Linked DNA regions of Homo sapiens. The protein of the gene in region 3 interacts with the protein of the main gene of each other region in a biochemical or structural test. Each region holds a gene or a part of one and is shown on either strand. Other genes may lie near its edges.

What was found.
Region 1: the proteins of HNRNPUL2 (region 3) and ERG form a complex in vitro, tested with the Homo sapiens proteins (one large-scale study listed by BioGRID).
Region 2: the proteins of HNRNPUL2 (region 3) and ERCC6 form a complex in vitro, tested with the Homo sapiens proteins (one large-scale study listed by BioGRID).

Annotation. Positions count from the first base shown.
Region 1 is NC_000021.9:38,397,478-38,400,977, forward strand, and holds part of ERG (transcriptional regulator ERG), read right to left. Parts: intron 3,169-3,500; coding exon 3,097-3,168; coding exon of another isoform or gene 2,885-3,096; exon of another isoform or gene 2,595-2,884; intron 1-2,594. UniProt on the Homo sapiens protein: Transcriptional regulator. May participate in transcriptional regulation through the recruitment of SETDB1 histone methyltransferase and subsequent modification of local chromatin structure.
Region 2 is NC_000010.11:49,522,122-49,525,621, forward strand, and holds part of ERCC6 (DNA excision repair protein ERCC-6), read right to left. Parts: intron 2,657-3,500; coding exon 1,912-2,656; intron 1-1,911. UniProt on the Homo sapiens protein: Involved in repair of DNA damage following UV irradiation, acting either in the absence of ERCC6 or synergistically with ERCC6. Involved in the regulation of gene expression.
Region 3 is NC_000011.10:62,724,658-62,728,815, forward strand, and holds the start of HNRNPUL2 (heterogeneous nuclear ribonucleoprotein U-like protein 2), read right to left. Parts: upstream 2,801-4,158; 5' UTR 2,500-2,800; coding exon 1,962-2,499; intron 1-1,961. Other genes in the region: TTC9C (tetratricopeptide repeat protein 9C), read left to right, coding at 3,477-3,504.

The sequences.
Region 1 (3,500 bases), on a different chromosome or scaffold from region 3:
GCCCCAGCTACTCGGGAGGCTGAGGCAGAAGAATCACTTGAACTCGGGAGGCAGAGGTTGTGGTGAGCCGAGATTGCACCACTGCACTTCAGCCTGGCAACAGAGTGAGACTCCATCTCAAAAAAAAAAAAAAAAAAAAAAGAAGAGAAAAGAAGATAAAAGAAAAGAAAAGGTAGGTTGGGGCAGTAACCCAGGGATGGGTGACTCACAGTGGGAAGGGAAGGAGGGAAGGGTGGTGAGGAAGTGCTGGGAAGGTGGATGCAGCAGGACAACACACATGTGTAGGAGTCTCTGCAGAAAGGGTGCGGAATGCTGTCTAATTTAACCAGTAAACCCTGAACACCACTGTCTCCTCTATCAGGGACTCTATAATGAAACGGCCACCATGCAGAGAAGAGACAGATTCTGGTCTAAGTAGAGTTGTTACCTAGGAGCCTGGCTTGCTTCATGGTCAGCACAATAACGCTGACCAGAGTTCGGTTCCCTCGGATGTGGGATTAGACAAAGGGTATGGAAATGAAGATCATGGCACAGCAAACCAAGAGTGGAGGAGACAGGGATTTGGGTCTGTATCCCCAAGGACCTTCAAAGAAACAGTCAACAATCACCTTTCTGAAAGTAGTCAGGTACCCACTGACCACAGGGATATCGTCAGATTCCCAGTGACCTCCCTCTGGAGCTCGTTCAGCTCTGAAAGTTAGTGATGCAAAAGCTCTTCCCCCTCAGCCATCACGACGTTCATTCTCCAGTTGCAGGTTCACAGCTTTTATCTCCACAGGAGCAGTCCTTTAAGGTTGATCGCTTAGCAATGGATGACCCGAGGTGTATAACTAGTTCTTATCTCCAAGTTCAAGTCCCTGAATAGGGCCTACAGTAAATAGTCCTCTGGCTTGTTCAGTCTGCTTTAAATTCTTTACAGGTCAGATACCAATATTTGTATTGGTTCTCATAATCACAGTAGCAGTGGTCAAAACAGGTTATTTCAGGTACAAACTGAGTCGCGAAAACATACTTGACTAGTAGTGGAGCTGTGGAAGTGTGCTCTCTCCCAGGTCACGCTCAAATTATGGGCCCATGGAAGACCACCATCAGAGCGGCATGGGAGGTGTCTGAGTTTGCCACCCTTGCCTTCCCTGGGTTGGGCAGAGAGGGAGTCCCAACCAACATCCTCACAGTCACCCTCTTCTCCATCCACCTGGATGGGCCATACCTTCCAAATCCACCATATCCTAAAATGTGAAAACAAAGCAGCTCCAGGACCCACTGTCTTAACCAGGTAGCATCAGTCAGCTGGCTTGTCTGACAGAGAGATTGTGCCAATGAATTTGGCCAGTGTTGTGATCTTTTAACACAGTTTATAATACTAGCTCACAACCCCTGGCTTTGCAACTCAGTCAGAGGCACCTATGAGATGTCTTAACATAAACAAACAAATACAAAATTAAAAAGTAAAAAAATTTTTAAAACCCTAGCCAAATGTTTTGGAAATAGTTTTTATTTTTTTAGTTTATATGGAAATATTTTTTAAATGCTCACAGAATTACAAAATCTCTAAAGCTTGAGTCAAACATGAATTTCTATTTTCCACTCGCAATACACGTGGTGGATGTCTTTAGGACCAATCTTGCAGACTCTAGGCACTGGGTCTTGCCCATGTTTCAATGGCCTGTGAAATCTTTTACATGACAGAGATGACTTACTACCTCTTAGTACCCCTTAGCTGCTAAGCCTTTCCATCATGCTTCCCAGGAGCAAGACAGTAAACTTTTTCTCTGACGTTAGAGAAGAGAAAATTGCCAGCCTGAAGTCACTAGGCAGTAACCAGGGCAGTGTCAGTATTTGAACAGCCTGAGAAGCTTCCTCATTCATTCTCTTTAGCTCCCTGGGCCCCCAGTCTTTCTCATTAGAAAGAAAGAGTAGTTGCCAAGCCTAGATCTTGAACCAGTTCGAACTGAGACTTGTGTATTCCGGATATGTGATAGAGTTTAACATGAATTCTGGAAGCATGTATGAATATGGAGAAACCATCCCACCACCCTGAACACAATGTCATCAGCTGTGAGGCTGGTACAATGATACCTAGCTTATCGGGCTGATGTAAGTCCCAGGGAGAGGACAAATGCTAAAGGCAAGCTATACCCTTCTGGGAAATGCCCTCTCTCCCTGCTCATTATTCGTCTGGCAAACATCTAATTCCCCTTTGCCATGTGGCCATTCCTCTGGAAAGCATCTTTATGCCTTTCATGGGGGATTGAGTTCCTCCCCACCCCTGCTCCTACGCCCTGTATTGCTAGAAGTGGTTCCTCTACCATAAAATCTATCACATTAGGGAAAACATTTATGTGTACATATGTGTCTCTCTGGCTCTAGGTCACTCTACTGAAACATCTAGAACTGGAGGCAAAACATTTCGGTTTGTTCACCATCATACCATCCGTGGCTGGCACAGAGGAGGCACTCAGCAAATGAACAAACCAAGCTGAATGAAGAAGTAAACTTTCTGAAGACAGGAAGCTTACTGAAGCCTGGTTCATCTATATATTCCCAGAGTCTAACACCACGCTTGGCACTAATGGGCACTTGATAGATGTTTATTTTTGCATGAATGGCATGTAAATTTATTACCTAATTAAATCATTTGGAGGACAGGCAGTAAGATTCAGATGTAAATACTACTGGTTGCATGCTTCTGCTCTGCAAGACTGGCTTCTTGTGACATACTGATAATCGGTCACTGTGAATCTGGGGAGTGTCCTTGTTTTGTGCTCTTCCCCCGAGGAGGGACAGATCCTTCTGTTAGTTCAAAAGTCGGCCTATTCCTAACTGCCAGGCATCCAGGATGCCTTCTTTGCCCATCTGTCTTTCTGAAAAGCTAGTTAAAGGGCTAATCTGCTCTTAATTCCTTTAGTGTGGTCTTTGAATGAAATGGTTTGAGTGGATTTAGTCTCCAAATCAACAGAGGCAGAATAAGACTGTCTGGGACTGGCTTCAGCTCCGGGATCAGCTCTCTTTGTATCACGTGACTTAGGGCACGGATCTCAGCAGGACATCTGGGATGTCTCTCAATGAAGAGATCACACAGGGGTGTTTTCGTACCTGGCCTAGTTGTAATTCTTTGCGTAGCTTCAGGATATACTGAAGTATTTGGGAAAATAAAAGCTGCACCCCCTGCAGACAAAAGGAAAGACAAACATGTGAAGGTCTTTTGTTGTGGTTGTCGATCTCAACATCAGCGCCAAATCTACTTTTCCCTATGACAACAAAGGGAAGAGACCTCCTCAAACCTGCCTTAACAGAGCTCCGGAGAAACAGACAGGTGCACCTGTCAGATTCTCAAGATGGAAGTGAAACTTGGAGCCTTGGTGTACTCCTGTGCCCCGTTTGCTATAAAGCGTTTTGTGTTTTGATTTTATAACTTCTTGATGAAGCCCTATCTGTGTCCCCCTCAATCCCACTTCCCACTGGGCAATCTCGTTTTATTAAAAAATTATATGGTACAT
Region 2 (3,500 bases), on a different chromosome or scaffold from region 3:
TTGTAAACTCTATGACTTTATTCTAATCATCCATCGTCAAACCACTGCTAAGACAAGCAACCCTAAAGGTCTTTCTGTTTCTCAAGGGAATAGCATTACCATTTCAATTAGTCTACAAAGATCAGCAATGAGTAACAAAATATAGAGAGACTGGCAGTTCTAATATGCTTCTCAATCCTGAGCATTTTATTTTCTTTCATCCCCCAAACCAAACAGCACCAAAGGAGATGTAATAACAAATATTTCAATGTGGATATCTGCAGTTTAACAGCCTTAATAACTGTAGCTATAAAATGTTAAGAGCTATCGTATTTTGGTGGCAATTAAGAGTTATTGATATTTCTGAAATTCATTTGAGATTTCACTGTAGCTTTAGCAAAATATTGGCTCTGGAAATAATAAATTGTTTTACAATCTTAACATTATTAAGAAAAACTTATTGCCATCAAATTAACTAAACCCACATTTAAAATTCAATCAAAATAAATTGCTCTTGATCAAAATACTGATATATTTTAAACATATTTAATATTGACCCAATTTAATTGGAAAAATATATATTGCTCCATTTATAATCAATATGTTGAGATTAACACTTTTATTAATTCCTTGCAGTAGTTAAGAAAAAGTCTGACACCGCTCACTGTTCAAGAGTACTGGGCAACATTCCTCAAACAACTTCACAGGTAATAAACGTGCACAGAAACGAAAGCTGTGCTGAGGGATGACAAATATAAGCCAGCCCTCATCTGTGCATTACTACATAAGGTGCTACTAGAATGTGAGTGCCGCAACTCTAAAGAACAGGATTTAAGTCACAGGTCCTCAAATTACTGTTTAAAAGAATTGACACATCTATTTCGGAAAGGTTATGGAATGTCTGTAGTGTCTGGACGGGGGTTAATGAGCAGTTCTAAGTAACAAGAAAAAACACCAGGTCAACCTTCACTCACAAAGGCCAATAAATACAACAAACTAGGTCTCTTCACCTTGAGAAATAAGAAAAAACTGTTGAGGATTGGGAAAAAGCCATCCCACTATCAAGTATTTTAAAAGTAATAAGGTTCCTTTTTCCCTTTGACTTCCTTAGAGCTAAGTGAGCTCTAAGTCAAGGAGACTTGAAATGCGCGGCAGTAGCACAGTGTTCAGTGGGCCACCATGGGGAGGCCTGCAATACAGATTATTTTTCCTGGCTCTCAGAAAACGTGTGGCAATATGCAATTCAGACTTCATGTTTCACATGTTCACCTTCCCTTTTATGGTGCTTGCTTTATACAATGACAATGTCATGGAGCTAAAAGCCAAAGTCAGTCTCTAACATAAAAAACAACAGTGAAAAGAAAGGTATGCTGTGCATACAAAGTACACTTTTTGCATGATGGTGGCTTATAATTATGCAGATGACTATTTTCTCAAGACAAAGGAAGGATTTACAAAAGCAAGCTTATTCTTTCTATGCCAAAGCTTAAGTTTCAGCTCTTTTTTGAAGAAAAGTTCTCTAAAATTACTTTCCTGCTTCAAAAGGGAAAACAGAAACCCCTATCCAGTATGCATTAATTCACCCTTTTCTTTTTCCTGATACTCATTCTAGGGTGACTGTCGGTATAAAGGCGACACAGCTCACACTCAGCCCTCTGTATGCCTCTTGCCCCAGCCTTCCCTTAAGTTTTTCATCTTAGACTTGCCTCCAAATCCAACTAAAGACCTAGAAGTACATGCATTTGGGGCCAGCATCATTAAGGACTCAGGGGCCCCACTGCTTCTAGCAGGTTAAGGCTGCAGAAATCCAACCTCTGTATAATCGGGGGGGTCTAATATATTAAGCTGGATCTAGAATGCTTACATATTAATAAACCTGTCACCTAAGATAAAGCAAACAGTACAATGTATTTATAATCCCCACAGACCGACCTTAACCGCTGCTTATAATAATCTTCATCTCCATCATCTCGGTATCTTCCCACTTTCCGACCTCCTCCTCCTCCTTCTCCTACAGAAGCAGCTTCAGCTTCTTCCCCAGAACTTGGGAAAAAGTCATCATCAATCTCCTGCACTGGCACTTTCTTCTGCCGTTTCCCGCCCTTGGGCAGAGGCTTCAGCTCATAGTCAGTACCATCTCCAGACAGGTCCGCCTCTGCCCCCTCCACCTCGTCATCTTCCTCCTCTTCCTCCTCCTCTGTGGGGAAATACTCAGACTCTTCACCCTCAGAGTCTCCCTCTGCCTCTGGCCTCATGTCTGACTCCCAAGGTCTCCTTGCCTTTGGCAATCCCACTTTCCCCTGGAACTGCAAAGCCCTCTTCTGGAGTTTCTTGATGTGCTTTTTCAAACGCTCCTCTTTTTTGGACAGAACTCTGGCTTTCTTGTTTGGTTTGTTTTTATTTTGCACTGGGGCTGGAGGCGTGACTGGGGCTGGAGCTTTTCTAGCTGCTCTTTTATTACAACCTTGCTTCTTCCTTTCAAAAGACAGTTTTGCTTGATCTGCCAAATACTTTTCGAAGCCTGATGCTTCATTAAGCATGATTTTTCTGGGCTTTTTCTCCTGTTTCTGAGGGATCTGGGTACCAAAAGGTGTCATCTGGCCAGTGCGGATGAGCTCTTCCCAGGCAGTCTCCTGGACAGGCATGAGCATGCTGCCAAGACTGGATGGCCCCGGCTCTGAAAGAACAATAGCAATGCGTTTCGCACTAGCATGAAACTTTCCGAGGGTACAAAAGAAATGCTCACTCTTTCAAGAAATATTAGGCAGCTACAAATAACTCATATAAAAAAAGAATCATCCATGTACTAAAGCATGTTACATATGAAGGACAGAATAAAATTATAGCATCATGCTATATTTAATATATTCCTGTTCAAAAAGACAACTTCTCAGTAACTTTTCCCCAAAATATTTCACTATAAATATACTCTCTGCCATCCAAAGATAGGCTTATTACTGTATAAATACAGTTATAAATAGTCAAGTTTAGCTGTGTTTCCTTATCAGCTGAGTAGTCGTCCATGAGGAAGCAAGCTCCGAAGTTCTCACGTCATTGCTAAAACCAACATTCAGATGGACTTAAATTCAAGAGACAGTAAAACCAAAAACAGGGATCACCATGTACCTAAAAAGGAAAAACATAAATGTCAGCTCTATGCTGCCCAGCATGGCAGTTACCAGTCACCTGCAGCTATTTAAATTTAAATTACATTAAGTTAAAAACTCAGTTCCACAGTTGCATTTGCCCTTTTTCAAGTGCTCAAGAGCTACACGTGACTAATGGCTACTATAATGGGCAACACAGAGAACATTTTCATCACTGCAAAAAGGTCTATTGGACAGCAGCACTGTGTTAGATATGTGAAGTTAACTGACTTGAAGACATTACACCATAAGTGTAAAGTCACCAGAAAGTATCCCTCTTTCATTAGTTGAAATTCATCTCTGGCAAAATTACCACATAACCAAAATACCAAAAGACCTAAGGCTTAATAGGAAGGAATCCATATTCTAAAATCT
Region 3 (4,158 bases):
AAAAATTGGACAATTTTTGCATTCTAAATTTATCCACTTAAATCAGGTCAAACTTGCAGATTTCCCCATCAATATGACATAAAAAATATCCTCTAGGTCTCTAAGAAAACCTCAAAGGTTAATTTAATTTTGACTCTTGTCAGATCTAGATTTAAGGTAGGCAGTTAGTACATATTTTGTAACACTTTTCCACACCTTCATGATACAGAGAAGCCTCAATTTCTTTTATTTCCCTTTCCTGCACTGAAATACACAGCCATCCATGGCTTTATTCATGTGGCAAATGGACTCAAGTGCATTATACACAGCTGTATTTTTATCAGGGACTTCTACTGAAAGTTGCAAGAGCAAACCACTAAGTCACAAGAGATCCATAAATAATACCGCATCTAGACTGCACATTTGGGGCAGAAAGGTGTTGTTGTATATTTAGCAACTTCTCTGCAAGAGGAAAAAACTTGGAGTTTTTCCCTAGGCTTCTGTATTTTGCAACACTAGGAAGGTTTTTAATAATAATTTCTTTAAAGCAGTCTTTTATCCTTCAATATATATTTTTTTGAGACAGAGTCTCGTTCTGTCGCCCAGGCTGGAGTGTAGTGGCGCGATCTCAGCTCACCGCAACCTCCGCCTCCCGGGTTCAAGCCATTCTCCCGCCTCAGCCTCCCAAGAAGCTGGGATTACCGGCACCCGCCATCACGCCCGGCTAATATTTTGTATTTTTACTAGAGACAGGGGTTTCACCATGTTGACCAGGCTGGTCTCAAACTCCTGACCTCAGGTGATCCACCCGCCTGGCCTCCCAAAGTGCCAGGATTACAGGCGTGAGCCACCACCCCCAGCCTATCCTTCAATTATTTTTTTATCTGCTCTTTGGGATATACATAAGTCAAAGGTTATGTAATGGGATTTTTGCTCCGGGACACAGGACAAACAATCTGCAAGTTGCATGTGATTGTTGTACAATGGGTTCCGATTATACCATGACTCTCCATAGTGGCCTAAAAATATTACTAACAAAAGAACTGAGGCCACCCACTTTATAGTAAGACTTATCCTCCCTACTCGGACACACACTGTTATGGATCAGTTCTAACCATCCAATCACTTCAAAAGAAAGGAGAAAGGTCACTAACTCCCTGGGGCGATTCTACAACACACCTCTTCCACAAGGTTACTCAACGGACCCAACAGCACCTCAGTCATTACCATTCAGGAACCGAGGGACCTGAAACGTAAAAGACTAGCACCAGGTGTTCAGCAAATCTACAAATATGCCTATCCACGGACTCAGTGGGACAATTAAAATTTAATCATAATCCAAGCAAGATAAAAACCCTAGCCAAGTAACGTTAACTAACTCTAAATGAACTAGATTAAGATTTTTCTCTTCACTGGTTAACTATTAAACTCGACACTGTTACACTAGAGGCTCTCCCTTACAGCTCAAAGAGGAGCAAGGTTGGATTTTCAGATTCTCTGTGGCTCAAGCTCTGGTAACATGCTTTTAATGGAACGGACTTTGACGGACTTCGATTTTTGCTTAACATTTTTACGGCGAAAAAGTTAGGTCAGGTAGCCCAAAGACCTGACCCTCTAACTGTGGGCCTAGTTCTCCGTGTAATCCCCAATTGCTTAGCACTTTCTCAGCTAAGAAAAATATAACAAGCACCGTGGGAGACTGTTCCACAGGTAGCTCACAAGTAGTTCGCATGCAAAATCACTCACTGCCATCCACTATCACCAAGGAACCAAGTTAGGCAGGAACCTTCCTCCTGCAAAGAGTAGGGCCACGAGAGGCGGCCTAACCCCTCAGAAAGGTGGGTAGAGAATGAAAGGAGTTCCATCAAATGGCACTTTGAGGCAAGCGAGAACAAGGACTCGGACCCTGCGGTGCAGGGCGGGGTGCTAGATCAGGGGCGCAGCCGGCAGGTTGGAGCCGGGCTCGGCTGCCAGCTCCTCACCCTGTTCCTCGGCGGCCTTGTCACCCGGCACCTCGGATCCCGGCGTCTCGTCCCCGCTCCGCTCCTCGGGTTCGTCTTCCTCCCTCTTGCCGAGGCCCTGCTCTTCGCCACCATTTACCCCGCCTGACCCGGCCGTGGCCTCCGCCGGCTTCTCGGAAGCATCTGGCTCGGCCGCGGCCTCCATGGCTGCCGCCTCCGGGGGCTCCGGCGGCGGCTGCGCGGCCTGACCCAAGGCTTGAGCAGGGGGTGGCTCCTCGTCCTCGTCCTCAAGCAGCGCCTCCTCGTCCTCCTCCTCCTCCTCTTCGTCCTCCTCCTCGTCCCCGCCCGGGCCGCCGCCCGACGCGGCCACAGGCCGAGGCTCCGCCTTGCAGGCCCCGCCGGGCCCGGCCCCGCCGCCGCCGGCCTCGTCCTCGAGCATCTCGGCGTCCAGCGCCTCCTGCAGCCGCTGCGCCAGATCCACCTTGAGGCCGCGCGAGTCCAGGCCCCGCCGCTGCAGCTCCGACCGCAGCTCGGTCACTTTCAGCCGCTTCACCTCCATCGCCGCCGCCGCCTCCTCCGCCTCCCGCCGCCTCCTCCCCTGCGAACCGTCGACCGAGTCCGACCGCGCAGGCGCCGCCGCCGCCGCCCGCCTCCGCCTCACGCGCCAGCACTGAGCCCGCGCGAGCGAGCGCACGCACGCAGGAGCGGAGGCCGCGCACGGTCCCGCTGCGCAGTGTTTGCTTCTCCTTCGTCTCCCCTCCCCCTTTCGGCTCACGGAGCCCAAAACAACGCAGCAGGGAGCTGTTTCCCCTCCAGGCCCTTGGTTCCCCAGCCGCGGGCAGGCGCGCGCGGAGGACGACGGAGTTCCTCCCGCTTCCTCCCGCCCTCTGGCGCCCCCGGGCCAATCGCCGCCGGTGCTTTTATCGCGCAGCCGCAGTGGAGTCCAAGACGGGCAAGGCTGGCTGCAGCTCAAGTGCCTCGTAGCACGGAAGCGTGTGCGCGCCGGTCTTTCAGTACTTCCAGCCGGGGAGTTCTGCGCAGCCGCCCGGAGCTCCCCGATGCCATGCCCCTCCCACCACCCTTACTTCCGTCTGACTTCCATTTGCTGTGGCGTTTTAGGGGTCGCTAGCCTCTTTTCCCTACTGTCTGTGCTTGCAGCAGTAACGACAAAAAAAAAGTCATTAGAGAATGTGTTGCAACATGTAAGCCTAGTAGCAATTGTTTTTCTGGCTAGGAAGCAAAAGGGCTCCCCAGAACGAAGAAATACTGTAATCCGGGCCCTCCTTTTTCCTCAACGCCTCAACTTCTACCCAGCAACAGAGGCCCTTGAACCCGCCCTTTTTCTCTTATTGGACAACTTGAATCGTCATTTGCCGTTCCGATTGGTCATCCGTGATCGTCCGGATTTTTCCAATTGGCGAAGCTGCCAGGGGAATTTTTTTTTTTTTTTTTTCCCAGGTTGGTCCGCTGAGGAGGCGGGGTCGTTTCTGCGGGATTATTTTTCCGGAGCCTCTTCTGATTGGGTGGTGTGGCGCAATGCGCGCGACCCTCAAGATACCAAACTGTACGCATCTCTGACCCTTTCCTCTCCTTGCTCCTGCTGGTAAACCGAAGCCCAGGAGACTTCCAGGTTTGGGCATCTGCAGAGGGCGAGGAACTGGTCACGGCGCCGGGTGGGCTTGCAGCTGTGACGCTTATGTGGACACCTCAGTGTCGCTGGTGGTTCACCTCGGCTTCCCAGTTTATTTATTGACGTCAACAAATAAATGTTGAATAAGGAAGAAGAGTTAGAATTGCTTGAAGCCCTCTGGAGTTTTAGCACTAGTCCCGCCCACTCCCTTCTACTTCCAGGTCGGGGGGGGGCGGGTCCAATAGAAAGGCGGAAGCCAGTGTCCCAGGCGTTCTCACGCCCGCAACAATTCCTGAGTAGGGCCTTGCTTGAGTTCTTCGGAAAGTCTCATCCACCCCCACATCGCCTCTTTAGGAAGTCACTTAATGTTGGGCTTCATTATTCCCACATCCCTTTCCTTACTACTTGCCTGCACTTCTTGAGAAAAAGACTGCAGAAAGGAGAGGTGGGGCTTTCAGTAGAAACAAGCAAACCGCAGGTCCCTGTGGGGGGACTCTCCAGGAAGAAGGGTAATTTCCTGCCTCCTTAAATTGGCTGCTACTGTCAGTTATTTTGCTCCCAACCCCAGAGCTTCACTTGCTCCTTCAC